Linked DNA regions of Homo sapiens: region 2 is linked to region 1. The links come from fine-mapping of genetic effects on gene expression. A gene starts in region 1. The other region holds a variant in brackets. All regions are shown on one strand. Distances are from middle to middle.

What was found. PIP is the estimated chance that this variant, and not a neighbour inherited with it, causes the effect.
Region 2: its variant is fine-mapped to the expression of ZFP64 in whole blood (INTERVAL, PIP above 0.99).

Annotation. Positions count from the first base shown.
Region 1 is chr20:52,188,752-52,197,091 of GRCh38, reverse strand. ZFP64 (ZFP64 zinc finger protein) reads left to right here and starts at 5,313. Exons shown (of 6, transcript NM_018197.3): 1 at 5,313-5,501. The coding sequence starts at 5,456. RefSeq lists enhancers at 4,432-4,561, 5,602-6,458 and silencers at 4,972-5,241, 5,602-5,841.
Region 2 is chr20:52,143,511-52,151,850 of GRCh38, reverse strand. It overlaps ZFP64 (ZFP64 zinc finger protein), which reads left to right. Exons shown (of 6, transcript NM_018197.3): 6 at 1-573. Among named protein-coding and RNA genes, the nearest start is that of ZFP64, 44 kb to the left of the region's middle. The variant TC/C (reference allele first, on the strand shown) is at 3,144.

The DNA of each region.
Region 1 (8,340 bases):
AGAGTATCGCCTCATTCTCATAGTCCAAAATGGCAGCTGGAGCTCCAGCCATCATATCCTCATCCCAAGCAAGGAAAAGAGGAAGAGCTAAAGAAGAAGGGACAAACAGCATATGCCAACTGCTATTTTAGGATATTTCCCAGAAGCTGCATCACATTTCATTTACGTTGTCAGAATTTAGTCATATAGCCATGCGTAGCTACAAAGGAAGCTGGGAAAAGTCTCTTTTCAGGAGGCCATGTGCTGAGCTATAAATTAGGAATTGTATTATTAAAAAAATTTGAGGCCAGGCATGGTGGCTCACACCTGTAATCCCAGCACTTTAGGAGGCCGAGGCGGGCGGATCACAAGGTCAGGTGTTCGAGACCAGCCTGGCCAACATAACAAACCCTGTCTCTAATAGAAATACAAACATTGGCTGAGAGTGGTGGCTCACGCCTGTAATCTCAGCACTTTGGGAGGCTGAGGCAGGCGGATCACTTGAGGTCAGGAGTTCAAGACCAGCCTAGGCAACATGGTGAAACCCCAACTCTACTAAAAACAAAAAACAGGCTGGTGGCAGGCACCTGTAATCCTAGCTGAGGCAGAAGAATCTCATGAACCCAGGAGGTAGAGGTTGCAGTGAGCTGAGATTGAACCACTGCACTCCAGCCTGGGTGACAGAGTGAGACTTCATCTCAAGAAAAAAAAGAAAGAAGTATAATATTAATGTTATGAGTACATATTGGTTTGAACCATATAAAATTACCATTTTTAAGTAAAAAATAAATATATCAGCAATTCATATGGTTCATTCTATTACATTTCTACAGAAAAAAAGCCTATAAAGATATAGACATGTAGTACATAAAGATATAAGTATATATCTCTGGTTGGTGAGATCTCAGATAGCCATGTATATTTCATGTGGAGGTGAAAAACATGTAAGCTGTAATTACATTTTTATAAAATATATGAATATGATTTATATGTGTGTGTATGCACACATACAACACACACACAAAAATTCATCAATCAAAATGTTATTTCTGCATAGTGAATTATAAGTGGGTTTTATTTTCTTATGTTTTCCTGTATTTTTTTTTCAAATTCTAACCAACAATTTCTAATACTTTTGCAATAAGAAAAACAAGTATAGGGCAAGTGCAGTGGTTCACACCTGTAATTCCAGCACTTTGGGAGGCCAAGGTAGGCAGATCCCTTGAGGCCAGGAGTTTGAGACCAGCCTGGCCAACATGATGAAACCCCGTCTCTACCAAAAATACAAAGAAATTAGCTGGGCGTGGTGGCACACACCGGTAATCCCAGCTACTCAGGAGGCTGAGGTGGGAGGATCGCTTGAACCTGGGAAGTGGAGGTTGCAGTGAGCCAAGATCGCACCACTGCACTCCAGCCTGGGTGACAGAGCGAGACTCTGTCTCTAAATAAATAAATAAGAGTGTGTTGATCTTGATGGAGCTTATGTTGAAAAATAACATTTTTTAAAAGTATAGAAAGAAAAATAAGAAATGAAAATAGGACATTTTCAGACCAGAAAAAGACTGTTGCAGTGGTCAAGATGTGTAATAGAGAAGGTTGGCTGGACATAGTAGCAAAAGGTTAAAATGGAGCTCATGGAAACATGCATGAAATCATTTCACAATAAAAAATGAACTGAGGATGCCTGTGTGCCAGGCTCTGTTCTAGGCCCCAGAGGATACAGGTAAATAAAATAGGCCAGGTCTATGCCCTCCTGGAGCTTACATGGTAGGGAGACAGATAATAACCAAAAATAATTAAAAGATAATAATAGCTAGGATTTATGCCGAGTTATATGAGTCAGGCACTATTCTAAGCACTTTACAGATATTGATTGGTTCCTCCTACAAAACAGCTTAATGAACTAGGTGCTACTATTATCTCCAAGCTACAGAAAACCGGGACACAGAGCAGTTGAATTTCCTATTCAAGGTTAAGCAACTAATCCTAGTTCAGCAACTCCAGGATTTGCATGGCAGTGGCATAGCCTAACTCCAGGGCCTACACACTTAACCACCAAACCAGTAAGGCCCAGACTTACATCATGATAAGAATTACCTGGGGCACTTTTGAGATATTTGCAGATTACCAAGTCTTACCCCAGAAAATTCTGATGCAGTAAGCATAGCTTGGAACCCAAGAACTCATTCTTTAGTGAGCCTTCCAGATGATGCTTCTCTTCAGGCAAATGTGAGATATATTGCTCTCAACAAAAGGAATCGTGACAATAAAAGTTAGAATGGTGACCTCTGCAAGATTGGATAGTAGGAATAGTATTATTTTATTTATTTATAGTTTTTTGAGACAGTCTCGCTCCATCACCCAGGCTGGAGTGCAGTGGCTCCATCTCAGCTCATTGCAACCTCCGCCTCCTGGGTTCAAACAATTTTCCTGCTTCAGCCTCTGGAGTATCTGGGATTACAGGTGTGCGCCACCAAGCCTGGCTAATTTTTGTACTGAAGAAAATGGGGTTTCACTATATTGGCCAGGCTGGTCTAGAACTCCTGACCTCAGGTGATCCGCCCACCTCGGCCTCCCAAAGTGCTGGGATTACAGACATGAACCACCTTGCCTGGCCAGAATAGTATTATTGGCTGGGAAGGTGCATGAGGGAGCCGACCAGGGCTGGAAATGTGTGTCTTGGAAGGGGACTTCCCAGGTGTGCACATATGTAAACATTCATCAAGCAATAAAAAATAAATATTGCCGTAAGCTGCGGTGCTCTGCTGGGTCATGTTAGCTAGACAGGTATCATGAAGGTGATGTCGCAGAGTCGCAGGGAGAGTGAATACTTTAGGTAAGACATAGGAAAGGTCTCTCTGGGAAGGCGACATTTCATTTGATGCTGGATGACCTAAAATAGCCAGTCCTGCAAAGACCAGGAAAGCAATCCAGGCAGAGGGAGGAGCAACAACAGCAAGGAGCCTGGTGGAGCTGCCTGGGCAATGCAGGGTGAGAGTGGTGTGATCTGCAGTGGGACTGGCAGGCCACAGCCAGTTACATCTAGCTCATTCCTGCCCCAGGGTTTTTGCTCCCACCAGTTCCTCAGGCTGGAATTGCTCCCCCCTCATCCTCACATGGCTGCATCCTCCCCGGCTCCTTGTTCAGATATTACCTGCTCGGAAAGGCCTGCTATGACCAGTTCTACAGCCACTATTACAGCCCCATTTTATGGTCTTTGGAGCCCTTATCACTAGCAAAATGTTGAGAACACATGGACACAGGAGGGGAACATCACACACCAGGGCCTGTCAGGGGGTGGGGGGCAACGGGAGGGAGAGCATTAGGACAAATGCCTAATGCATGTGGGGCTTAAAACCTAGGTGATGGGTTGATAGGTGCAGCAAACCACCATGGCACATGTATACTTATGTAACAAACCTGCACGTTCTGCACATGTATCCCAGAACTTAAGGTTAAAAAAAAAAAAGGAAGTTTTATATATATTTTTTATATATATAAATATATAATATATAATATATAATATTTTATATATAATATATATTGTATATATTTATATATAATATATATATACATAAATATAAATATATATTAAATATATTAAATATTATATATTAAATATATATATATTTACAGTACTGATTTGATTATTTCATGTTGACTGCCTCCCTGGTCTACCTCCAGCAGCTAGCCCAGTGCCTGGCACTTCACAAACACTTGAGAATAAACAGCTGCTGCAGGCAGAAACCAAGCCTTAGAGGCAGCAGCAGGGAAAATCCCATTCATTATACAAGCCATATTTACTAAGCCTACTATGTGTCAGGCACCAGCCAAGTCACTGGACTACATCAGTGAAGCAAAGAGATTTTTTTAATCCCCATTTTTACAGGGACTTACTGAAAATAAGGGGGAGGAGAACACAGATAATATACAACTAAATTATATCTAAGCAGATATACTCGAGATACATAATATGTTCCATCTAACACCTTTTAAGGACAAAGCAGGCCAGGCATGGTGGCTTACACCTGTAACCCCAGCACTTTGGGAGGCTGATGGAGGATCGCTTGAGGCCAGGAATTCGAGACCAGCCTGGGCAACATCTCTACAAAAATAAAAATTAAAAAGTGAGCCAGGGTGGTGGCCCACGCCTGTAGGGGGGATTGCTTGAGCCCAGGAGTTGGAGGCTGCAATGAGCTAGGATCCGACCACTCTTCCAGCCTGAGAGACAGAGAAAGACCCCCTCTCTAAAAAAAGAAAGGGAGAAAGAGAGAGAGGCAGAGAGAGAGAAAGAAAGAAAAGAAAAGAAAAGAAAAGAAAAGAAAAGAAAAGAAAAGAAAAGAAAAGAAAAGAAAAGAAAAAGAAAAAGAAAAAAACAGGAAGGAGACAGGGAGTGGTTGGGGGAGGAGGAGGGGGCTGCAATATTAGAATGATTAGATTAGGCCAAGCATGGCCTCCCTGAGTGTGAATTTGAATGCTGACCTTCAGAAGCAGGACAGACTCTATGGGCAAATCCCTCGAGGCTGGGAGAGGTCTGAGGCTTGGGAGGGTCGGCAGAGAGACAATAGGGCTGACGCAGGAGCCCGGGGGAGACAGTAGTAGTAAGACATGAGGGACAGAGCAGAGAGGTCACTGTCCTCAGAGTGTGGACGCCGACCAACACTAGGGGCATCACCTGGGAACTTAGAAATGCTCGTTCTCACGCCTCGCCCCAGACCTACTGAAGCAGAAACGCTAGGGTGGGCCCAACAGCGTGTGTTCTAACAAGCCTTTCAGGCGACTGCGATGCACGATAAAGTTGGCAGCTCCTGGAGCAGGGGTCCCTCCGCGCTACGACCCCACCTCTTCGCGGTCCTCTCAGTCTCCCTAGCGGGGCAAGGGACCCGCCCAGCGCTTTGCTGATTTGCCCAGCGCTCACGCCCAACCTGGGTTTCTCCGGAGCTCGCCGCGCCCCGCGCACCCACCCCGCAACGGCAGCCGCACGTGGGTCTCCCCGCAAACCACCCAGGCGTCCCGGGAGCAGCGCTGCTGCACGGCCGCGCTGGGGGCCCAACGCCTGGGGTTGCAGGTGCAAAAGGCGCCCCGAGCCGGGGAGGCCAATCGCGTCCGCGGAGAACGCAGAGTGCGGGCAGGGGCGCATCCCTCGCCACCCGCGGTCGCCCAGCACGCCGGGACGCGCGTGGCCATCCAGCTCCCCGGGGGCGTTGGGGGGCTCCGCGGGCCTGGGCCTCGGGATTCGCCCGCCGCTTCCCCGGGGAGCCGCTGCTGCAAAGCCAGGTTGGGGCGCCGGGCCCGGCCAGCGCCCTCTAGGCAGCGGAAGTGCAGCTTGCTTTACATCCGTCCTCCCCGCCTCGCAGAGTTGGGAGAAGGCAGGGTGGGGGGTGTGGAAAAATAAAAGGAAAAGTCCTTGCACCATGTAGATCAGCGTCCCCCACTTTGGCATCCCGGCCGGCCGGGGACCTCCCAGTCTGCGGCCATGAACGCGAGCAGCGAGGGCGAGAGCTTCGCGGGCTCGGTGCAAAGTAAGTGCTTTTCCGGGAGCAGTGCGCGCTCCGGGGCCCAGTGCGCGCTCCGGGGCCCGGGCCCAAGCACGTCTGCGACGCAGCCAGCAGGCCCGGGGCCCCGAAATCGGGGTGACGGCTCGGAGCCGCGTCTCGGGGACCGCGGCGGGCGCGCTGTGCAGGGGGCGCCGGAGTGGGCTTGGGGTGGGGGCGCACCCGACCTGGCGCAAGACCGGGGGCGCTCTCCAGCCTTGCGAGACCCCTTGGAAGGGAACAGTGGGGGAGGGCACGCCGTTCAGACAATCGCCACCCCCTAAGGGCATTCCCGCCCCATCAGGCGGAGTTTGGGGCGGGCAGGAGAAAGGGAGGAATCTAGGGTAAACGGGGCAACACTGATGGGAAAACTTCTGCCTCAGTGGCTCAAAATTAGAGCCTGGAGATTGGGGGAATCACCAGGTCTCACGAGGTCCTGCCGGCTCATTGCAAAGCCTTTTCCTCATTAAGGGTGGAGATCTGAATGGAAAACGGGGCCGTGGTCGCTTTATTTGGGTTTGGGGTTCAGTTTTTATTTAACCGAGGAGGACATCAGCGTTTTTCAAGTCCCTGGTTTCTCCCGGTGCATTGTTTCCCAAAGTGTGGTCCAGAGACTGAGTGCAACCAGCCACCTGGGAGCGAGAGCGTGTATTTTAAAACAGCTTTCTGGGCCCCACCCATTCAATCTCGGGGGTGGGGCTGGGGATCCGCTGTCCTTCGTAGCTGCCTGGGCAACTCTGAAGCACATGAAGTTTGAGAACCCATCTACCAGGGGTTTGCAGAAAATCTGGCACATAGTAAGCTCCCAGCTTGTTAGCTGCTACTGTTAACAGTTTGGGAGACACTGGGTCCCAAACTTGGCGGTGTATTCCTTGCATTACTGTGAAAAGCACAGATTTTCCTAAACACCATCCTCCCCACCCCACCCTGTTATGACTCAGTATCTCCTAGGTGGGGCTCAGATATGTCCATGTTTAAATAGTGTACCTCAGTAAGAACCCAGCAGGTAACATGCTGGGGGACTGGCGGGGAGGGGGGACTGTGCTGGTACGAGCACCATCCCATTTAATTCTCATAACAAGCCCGTGTTTTTTCTTGGAGAAATTAAAAACAAACAAAAACCATGGATTAGAAACCTCTCCTCCCATTTTTCAGATGAGAAAACCCACGCTTAAAGTCACTGTTGTTAAGCGACAGTGTCAAGATTCTAACGAAGGTCTATGTCGTTACTTTTGCACTTTCCACATACCAGTGACATTATCTGTTATGAAAATCCTTTCATTCTGGGTGTCAGTCCTATTCCATCATTAAGGAATCGTCAGCAATGCAAGCTACTTCATGTCTCACTTCCTTGTTTCCTTGTTAGTTCCATGGGTATCTCAGTATCTGCCAGAGAAGAAAAGGTTTCCTTCCTTCCATCCATTGATTGCAAAGTGCTTAAGTGTATCCCTGCAAGATGGCTTATCACAGTGCTCAGCCCAGTCTCCTTAGCAAGTCAACCAAACTGTATTTCTGAACAGAGATTTCTTGTCTTAGCTAGACCTGGGGAAAATTGGACATAATGTAAATATCTTACAAATTTTCAGAAAATTATGAGGCATAATTTTATCTAACCATATATGCACAAAGGTAGTCTTGTATCATTTAACTTGGGAAAAATTGGAAATTATGTAAATACCTTATTGTTGCTGAGAAGATTATGACGCATGGACACCATGGAATAATGTATTGCCATTAAATAATCATATATATATGAAGAGATTTTAATGATATAGCACAATGTTTATGCAATGTTTAGGAAAAAGGGCCAGGCACGGTGGCTCACGCCTGTAATCCTAGCACTTTGGGAGGCTGAGGCGGGCGGATCACATGAGGTCGGGAGTTCAAGACCAGCCTGACCAACATGAAGAAACCCCATTTCTACTAAAAATTCAAAATTAGCCTGGCGTGGTGGTGGCGCTTGTAATCCCAGATACTCCGGAGGCTGAGGCAGGAGAATCGCTTGAACCTAGGAGGCGGAGGTTGCAGTGAGCTGAGATCGTGCCCTTGCACTCCAGCCTGGGCAACAAGAGCAAAACTCCATCTCAAAAAAAAAAAGGAAAAAAATTAGGAAAAGGATTAGTTTTACAATACTATGATCTGAATATTTACAATATTATGATCTTATGCAATTTTTTTTTTTTTTGAGATGAAGTCTCGCTGTCACCAGGCTGGAAGTTCAGTGGCATGATCTTGGCTCACTGCAACCTCCACGTCCCAGGTTCAAGCAATTCTCCTGCCTCAGCCTTCTGAGTAGCTGGGATTACTGGCACGTGCCACCACACCCAGCTAATTTTTGTATTTTTAGTAGAGACGGGGTTTCACCATGTTCGCCAGGATAGTCTTGATCTCTTGTTGTGATCCACCCATCTCGGCTTCCCAAAGTGCTGGGTTACAGGCGTGAGCCATCTTACGCAACTTTTAAGTGTAAAGAAAATGAATGGAAAAAAATATTTTATAATATTCATGGTAGGCAGAGATGGAAATATTGAGTGATTTTCCCCTTCTTTATAAGTTTCTTCTAAATTTTCTTATAAACACGAGTTATCTTTTTTTTTTTATGTGAGACGGAGTCTCGCTCTGTCGCCCAGGCTGGAGTGCAGTGGCACAATCTCAGCTCACTGCAACCTGCGCCTTCCGGGTTCAAGCAATTCTCTTGCCTCAGCCTCTCTAGTAGCTGGGATTACAGGTGTGTGCCACCACGCCGGGCTAATTTTTTTTGTTTATTTTTAGTAGAGATGGGGTTTCACCATGTTAGCCAGGATGGTCTCGCTCTCCTGACCTCATG
Region 2 (8,340 bases), 45 kb after region 1:
TGAACTCCTGACCTCAAGTGATCTGCCCACCTCAGCCTCCCAAAGTGCTGGGATTACAGGTGTGAGCCACCATGCCTGGCCGTGGTTTGCTCTTAATGTTTTTAAGGATGGTTGTGAATCCCCCTGGCCCCATAATAAATTGTAATTTTATACTGCTTACTATAATTTTTTTAACACTGTAACAACTTTGAGACCACCTCTGAATCGTCGCATTATAACTGTTGTAGAATCTTAAATGTTACCAAGATGATTCCAATGAGGGGTTGGAATTAAATGCATTAAGTAGTGAATTCATGTGTTTGTTTCCAACTTGATTTTCCAACTCTAATAAAGGTTTCTGTCCATCTTATTACATTTGTGTAGTAAATGGTACTTCCCAGCCTCTCTTTTGCCCCATTCTGGAATACTCCCCAGAGTTTGGGGGTGTTCATGTTTTATACATGTAAGTCTGTTGGCATGAAGGACCATTTTCTACATAATATGACATGGATACTTGACCCAAAAAAAAATGTTTAGTGCTAATGAGCAGAAAATGAATGGTTCCATAATAAATTGATATCTGATTAAAATATACTGAATGTTAATGATTCTTTAGAGCCAAGGTGGGATTTGGGAATGATGGGGCGTGAGTCATTAATCAAAAACAAACTGAAGCAGCAAAGGTTTTTAGTCCTTTCATAAACGTCACACAATCATCTTACCTCCTCCACAGTCACATTAAATAGATGTGGTACCTAAAGTGATAAAGTGATCCATCCCACTGTTGTTTTCATTTTGAAACTTCAGACTGACAATCCTGGCATTTCTGTTTAGACACAAAAATGATCAAAGTTCCTACTAACAAGACAGAATTTTCTAGAATACCATTTTTGAGATGTTAATATCTGTGCAGAATCCAGATGAGTGGACTGAGAGAGTACCTAGATTTTTTCCAAAGCATAGGTTGTATTGAGAAGAGGAAAATTCAGATTGTGTTGTTTTACATTGAAATGCTGTTTGATCAGTAGGTGGTGCCAGAGAGCAAGCTAGAATCATCCATATTTGTACCTTAAGCCATTCTGTAAGGTTGTAATAGCACTCATTTCTGCTGTCAGCAAGGATTGGTGAGGAGGGGAGGTTACTCTTGGGACAGAAGCATATTTAGAATATTATGAGAATACTTAGATACATTTCTACCACTTTTATTCTTCTTTCTTTGATCTGTAATAGTTGGACACAATTTTGATGACTTGCTATATTTGCCATAATTTCTTTATTTTCCTATCATCAATGATAATAGTGAGTTATTAACTATGTTTTTGGTAAGAAACAGAAAAGGCTTGCAGTGTACAATGTTAGTGATTTAAATAATTTTGTCACTTTAAACTTATTGCTTACAGCCCTTTAGAAAAACTGTTCTGCTTTTGAATTTCAGCTGGGAAACTTCCATTGTCATGGTCCTATTTCCTATGTCTTTCTCTTTTCCCACTTTTTTCAACCATAAAGGATTTTTTCCTGATTATAATGTGTATTCAAGATAGAAAATATGAAAAACAGAATATTACTAGGAAAAAAATAGAAGTTACTAATAATCTTACTGTCCAGATATAAACTATACAGATTGTAACCATTTTGATGGACTTCCTATCAGTCTTTTTTTTTTTTTTGAGGTGGAGTCTCACTCTGTTGCCCAGGCTGGAGTGCAGTGGCGCAATCTCAGCTCACTACAAGCTCCGCCTCCCGGGTTCACACCATTCTCCTGCCTCAGCCTCCTGAGTAGCTGGGACTCTAGGCACCCGCAACCAAGTCCGGCTAATTTTTTGTATTTTTAGTAGAGACAGGGTTTCACCGTAGCCAGGATGGTCTCGATCTCCTGACCTTGTGATCCACCCACCTCGGTCTCCCAAAGTGCTGGGATTACAGGTGTGAGCCACCGTACCTGGCCCCTATCAATCTTTTTTTATGCTTACGTATATATGTTTTCTACTCCAGTTATGAAGTTGTAGTTTAATTAAGCATAATATTTTTTATATTCTATATTTCCTTTTGTATCCTTAGATCTCTACCTACCAGCTGCCTTCCATATATAATACATACACATACATACATACATACACATGCATGCATAGAGATGTACACACATGCATATTTGATTTGTTGGTTGTTTTGTCTTTTTACAAACAAAACAGTAAAACTTACTCTTTGGAATAAATTATACACAGAATTGTACAAACACCAAGCCAACAACTTCCAGCCCCTCCGTATTCTCACCCCACCCAAGGTAAGTAATGTTAGGTGCTCTGTGTTCTTACCAATATACGTAGACTCAAAAGATAACATAGAAAAGGTTTTTCCTAGTTCTATAGTAATTGTATCATACTCTGTACATTTCTCTGCAACTTGCTTTGATTATTCCATTTATTGACAGTCCTGTGGGTCAACAAAACTAGACCTAGTTTTTTTAAATAAGTGTTAGAGACATGCCAGGCTTTAGTCCGTCATCTTGCTATTATGATTCTTCAGGTTGTTTGGGGAATATTTTTGCCATTACGACTGCCCCAGTAAACTCTCATATTCAGCTTTTTTTTTTTTTTTTTCTGTAAGTAGATTCAAAAGTGTAAGTTTCACGGAGTTTCCATAGTTTGTACTTGCATAAATACGGATTAATTTTCACAATGATAGTCTCATCCCTGATGTGAGCTCAACTACCTTTGGAAGTTTTATCACTCTGCTGCGTGAAAATGGTTATCTGGCCTTTGTGCACTCCCCTAGCTGGTGCTGTGGTCTGCGTTTTCTGAGACGTCTCTGCATAGGGCTGGTTGACCATGTGTGCTTCTCTCTTCTATGAACTTAGAACTCTTACTCCCTCCTTTTGGTTGTTGGGAAGTTGGGGACATTAACCCGACATCAGTCACACATTGCTGAGTTTCTTCCCCTCCTGTCATTGTCTTTTGACTTTACCTGTGGGGCTGTCACCATATAAAAATGACTGTCTTTTTCTGTAGTTAGATTCTTCTGTCGCTTCATTTGTGGCACGTGTGTTTTCTAAGAACGTCCATCCTTCCCCTGAGATTAAACTGGTTTTCCCTTTAGTGTTTTTACTGCTTGCTTATTTGTTTTTCAATGGCTCCTTGCTGCAGCCAGAATTCTTTTTTTTTTTTTTT[TC/C]TTGTTTTGAGACAGAGTCTGGCTGTCGCCCAGCCTGGAGTGCCGTGGCGCGATCTCAGCTCACTACCTGCTCTGCCTCCCAGGCTCAGGTGATTCTCCTGCCTCAGCCTCCCACGTAGCTGGGATCACAGGCGTGTGCCACCACACCTGGCTAATTTTTGTATTTTTAGTAGAGACGAGATTTCGCCATGTTGGCCATGCTCGTCTTAAACTCCTGGCCTCCAGTGATCTGCCCACCTCGGCCTTTCAGAGTGCTGGGATTACAGCTCATGCCAAGAACTCATATTTATATGTTATGATGAACAGGTTTGACTGTCCACTTATGCCAGGACCATTTGTTAAATATTATTTTCCTGAAAACTGAAATCCTAATTTAAGCCATCGTGTAGATAAAGTTCACAAATATACTTCCAGAACTTCTTTATTCTGGAAGATTATAGATCTGAGATTCCCAAAGAAGATCTGGCTGGCCAACATGACATATTTGATTATACTAGCATTAAGGTAAGCTTAATCTTTTAGACTTACAAAGCTTCCCCCAGCTATTATTTTCCAAAATGTTCTTAGCAATTCTTAGATATTTATTCTTCCAAAGGAACTGTTATTTTATCCAGTACCTAAACCACCCCCACCAAAAAAGAAAACCTTTTGGAGATTTTTATTGAAATTGCATCAGTATTTTATATGAACTTATCAAAAGCACAACTATGAAAATATTAAGTCTTCCACCCAATTTTGGCTCACTGCAGCCTCCACCTCCTGGGTTCAAGAGATTCTCCCACTTCAGCCTCTTGAGTAGCTGGGATTACAGGCGCCTGCCACCATGCCTGGCTAATTTTTTTGTGTGTATCTTTAGTAGAGATGGGGTTTCGCCATGTGGACCAGGCTGGTCTTGCACTCCTGGCCTCAAGTGATCCGCCTGCCTCGGCCTCCCAAAGTGCTGGGATTACAGGTGTGAGCCACGGTGCCCGGTCCTGTGTTTTCTTATTATTCCATAATTTTATCATAATTGTGAATAGGAATTTTTGCATTTGTTGCAAACATCAAGAAAAGCCAAAATAGGGTATATTTGTCTATATTAAAGAAAAATTCTCAGTAATGAATGGTATTTATTAGAAATTCTTGGTCTCTGATAAATATGATTTATAATTATCTGATATAGTCTTTTATTTTCAGATTGTTTCATCTCTTCCTTTAGAATATTTTTACTACTTATTTTGTTTTCTTGTCCTGTTGCTTTAGCCAGAACCTCCAAACAATGCTGATACAGCTGGCATCCTTGCTGTGTCCCTAATTCTAACTTCAGAATTTTCCAATGTAATATACACCACTCCTTTGGATAATGGTTTTTATGGTACTTAGGTCATTTTCTTCCACTCCAGTTTTCACTTAGAGTGAAATTGCTTGAACCCAGGAGGTGGAGGCTGCAGTGAGCCAAAATTGCGCCACTGCACTCCAGCCTGGGTGACAGAGTGCAACTCCATCTCAAAAAAAAAGAAACACAGACCTTATATAATGAAAATAGACTACATAATTTGACTGAATAATGTTTACAATGGAGTTAAATAAGGGTTTTTGAGTGGAAGACTTAATATTTTCATAGTCATTCTTTTGATAAGTTCATATAAAATACTGATGCAGTTTTACTTATCAGGGTAGCTTGCTGAATTTTATCAAATATCTTCTTAAAATTGTTAGCCGTAAGTATTTGGGTTTTGCACTTAAATATGTTGACACAGTGAATTTGTGTAGCATATAGCCTGGTATGTTAAGTCACCTTGCATTCCTGGAAGAAATCCTCTTGGTCATGTTGAATTATTCTTCCAAAACACTGCTGGATTTCGTTTTCTAATATCTTATCTGGAAGTTTTGCAACTCTAGTTCATGTGCTACATAAGAGCATTTTGGTCAACAACAGACTGCATGTTACAATGGTGATCTCATAAGAATAATGGAGCTGAAACATTTCTTTTTTTTATTATACTTTAAGTTTTAGGGTACATGTGCACAATGTGCAGGTTAGTTACATATGTATACACGTGCCATGCTGGTGTGCTGCGCCCATTAACTCGTCATTTAGCATTAGGTATATCTCCTAATGCTATCCCTCTCCCCTCCCCCCACCCCACAACAGTCCCCAGAGTGTGATGTTCCCCTTCCTGTGTCCATGTGTTCTCATTGTTCAATTCCCACCTATGAGTGAGAACATGCGGTGTTTGGTTTTTTGTCCTTGCGATAGTTTACTGAGAATGATGATTTCCAATTTCATCCATGTCCCTACAAAGGACATGAACTCATCATTTTTTATGGCTGCATAGTATTCCATGGTGTATATGTGCCACATTTTCTTAATCCAGTCTATCATTGTTGGACATTTGGATTGGTTCCAAGTCTTTGCTATTATGAATAGTGCCGCAATAAACATATGTGTGCATGTGTCTTTATAGCAGCATGATTTATAGCCCTTTGGGTATATACCCAGCATGGGATGGCTGGGTCAAATGGTATTTCTAGTTCTAGATCTCTGAGGAGCTGAAACATTTCTATTGCCTACTGATATCTTGATGATCCTGACCCTGCATAGGCTGAGGCTAATGCGCATGTTTGTGTCTTAGTTTGTTTTTTTTTTAAGTTGAAAAAGTAAAAGAAAAAAATAAAATAGAAAAGGCTTATAGAATAAGGATATAAAGAAAGAATATTTTTGTACAGTTGTACAATGCTTGTGTTTTAAGCTGAGTGTTATTACAAAAGATTTTGATAAGTCAAAATATAATTAATACATGTATAAAGTAAAACAGTTACAATAAGCTATACTTAATTTACTACTGAAGAAAGACTTTTTTAATAAATTTAGAGTAGTCTAAGTGTACAGTGTTTATAAGGTCTGCAGTAGTACACAGTCATGACCTAGGCCTTCACATTCACTCACCACTCACCCACTGACTCACCCAGAGCAACTTCCAGTCCTGCAAGCTCCATTCATGATAAGTGTCCTAAACAGGTGCACCATATTTTTATCTTTTATACCATACTTTTACTGTACTTTTGTTTTGTTTTGTTTTGTTTTTGAGAAAGGGTATTACTCTATCACCCAGGTTGGAGTGCAGTGGCACAATCACAGCTCACTGCAGCCTCTACCTCCCCAGGCTCAGGTGATCCTCCCACCTCAGCCTCCCAAGTAGCTGGGACCACAGGCATGTACCACCACATATTTTTTGTAGAGATGGGGTGTTGCCATTCTGCCCAGGCTGGTCTCAAACTCCTGGGCTCAAGTGATCCACCCACCTAAGCCTCCCAAAGTGCTGGGATTACAGGCATGAGCCACCACGCCTGGGCTACAGTACCTTTTCTATGTTTAGTTATATTTAGATAGACAAGTACTTACCATTGTGTTACCATTACCTATAGTACTCAGCACATTCACGTGCTGTATGGATTTCTAGCCTAAGAGCCATAGGCTACGCCCTATTTCTCAGAATGGATCCCTGTTGATAAGTGGCAACGACTGTATACACATACATGCAGCTGGTCTCTAGTTTTCTTTTTTAGTGCTATCTCTGATTTTTGCTTGTTTCTTATGCAACTCTAAAAATAAATTGGAGCTTGTGCAACTCTAAAAATAAGCTGGAGCTCTTTTCTTCTTTTTCGGTGACCTGAAATAGTTTGACTATCTCAGAAATTATCTGTTCTGTTATCTTGGCTGATACTCTTTTTCACTGTAACATTCTTAACAAATTTCCCAATTATTTTCTGTAATTACTGATCTGTTCAGGTTGTATACCTTATCTGGATCAATTTTAGTAGTTTATATTTAGCAAAAGAAAAAACATCATTTACTCTGCTCTAAATTTTCAATTACGTGGCCCTATGATTCCATTTAACTTTCTTTTTAAAATATTTTAATATCTTTAGCATTTGGGGGTCCACCACCTTTCTTGTTACTACTGGTTTTGGGGTTTCTTTTTTTATTGTTGTATTTTTAGTCTTCTACTTAGTATGCTAAGGGTTTACTTATTTAGTCATTTGTATTAAAGTAAAAGTAGCACTTTTGCTTTTATTTATTTCTCTACCCCTCCTCCATTTCATTCATTTCAGCTTTCAGCATTTTTTTTTTTTTTTTTTTTTTTTGAGACGGAGTCTCGCTCTGTCACCAGGCTGGAGTGCAGTGGCGCGATCTCGGCTCACTGCAACCTCCACCTCTCGAATTCAAGCGATTCTCCTGCCTCAGCCTCCCGAATAGCTGGGACTACAGGTGCACGCTACCACACCCAGCTAATTTTTTTGTATATTTTGTAGAGACGGGGTTTCACCATGTTGACCAGGATAGTCTTGATCTCTTGACCTCGTGATCTGCCCGCCTTGGCCTCCCAAAGTGCTGGGATTGTAGGTGTGAGCCACCATGCCTGGCCTCAGCTTTTATTTTAATACTTCTTTCCCCTGCTTTTCTTTCATTTTATTTTGTTATTCTAATTTCATGTATTAAGTTCACTTAGTCTTTAGTAATAAAAACATTTAAAGCTATATATTTTCCATTATGCCTTCACCTGTGTTAAAAGATAATTTTTTAAGTTAAAATCATGACTGTCCTACAAATATAAGATTAACACGTCAAGTATTTAATTCATTAATTAAAGGGGGAATCAGCAAACTATCACAACAGGCTCAAAGGAGGATTAACAAATGCATGATTACATAGGCAATCAGGAATGCTGAAATAAATTCACCAACAGATCCAAAACTGGTCAGTATCTCCAGAGTAGTAATTAGCTGTGTTCCATCAAACGAAATCTGTTTGCAGTCCTGTGGATGAGTTATTTGCAACACTATCTATTTCTGTAACTTGCAAAGTTATAAAATGGCCAGGCATGGTGGTTCACGCCTATAATCTCAGCACTTTGGGAGGCCAAGGCAAAAGGATCACATGAGCCCAAGGATTCCAGACCAGCTTGAGCAGCATAGGGGAGACCCTGTCTCTACAAATACTATTAATAATAAAAAAAAAAATTGGCCGGGTGTGGTGGTGTGCACCTGTAGCCCCAACTACTCTAGAGGCTGAGATTAGAGGATCACTTGAGCTGGGGAGGTTGAGGCTGCAGTGAGCTGTGATCATGTGCCACCGCACTCTAGCCTTGGTGACAGAGTGAGACTGTGTCTAAAAAAAAAAAAACTAAGTCGTAAAATAGCTCAAAAACAACA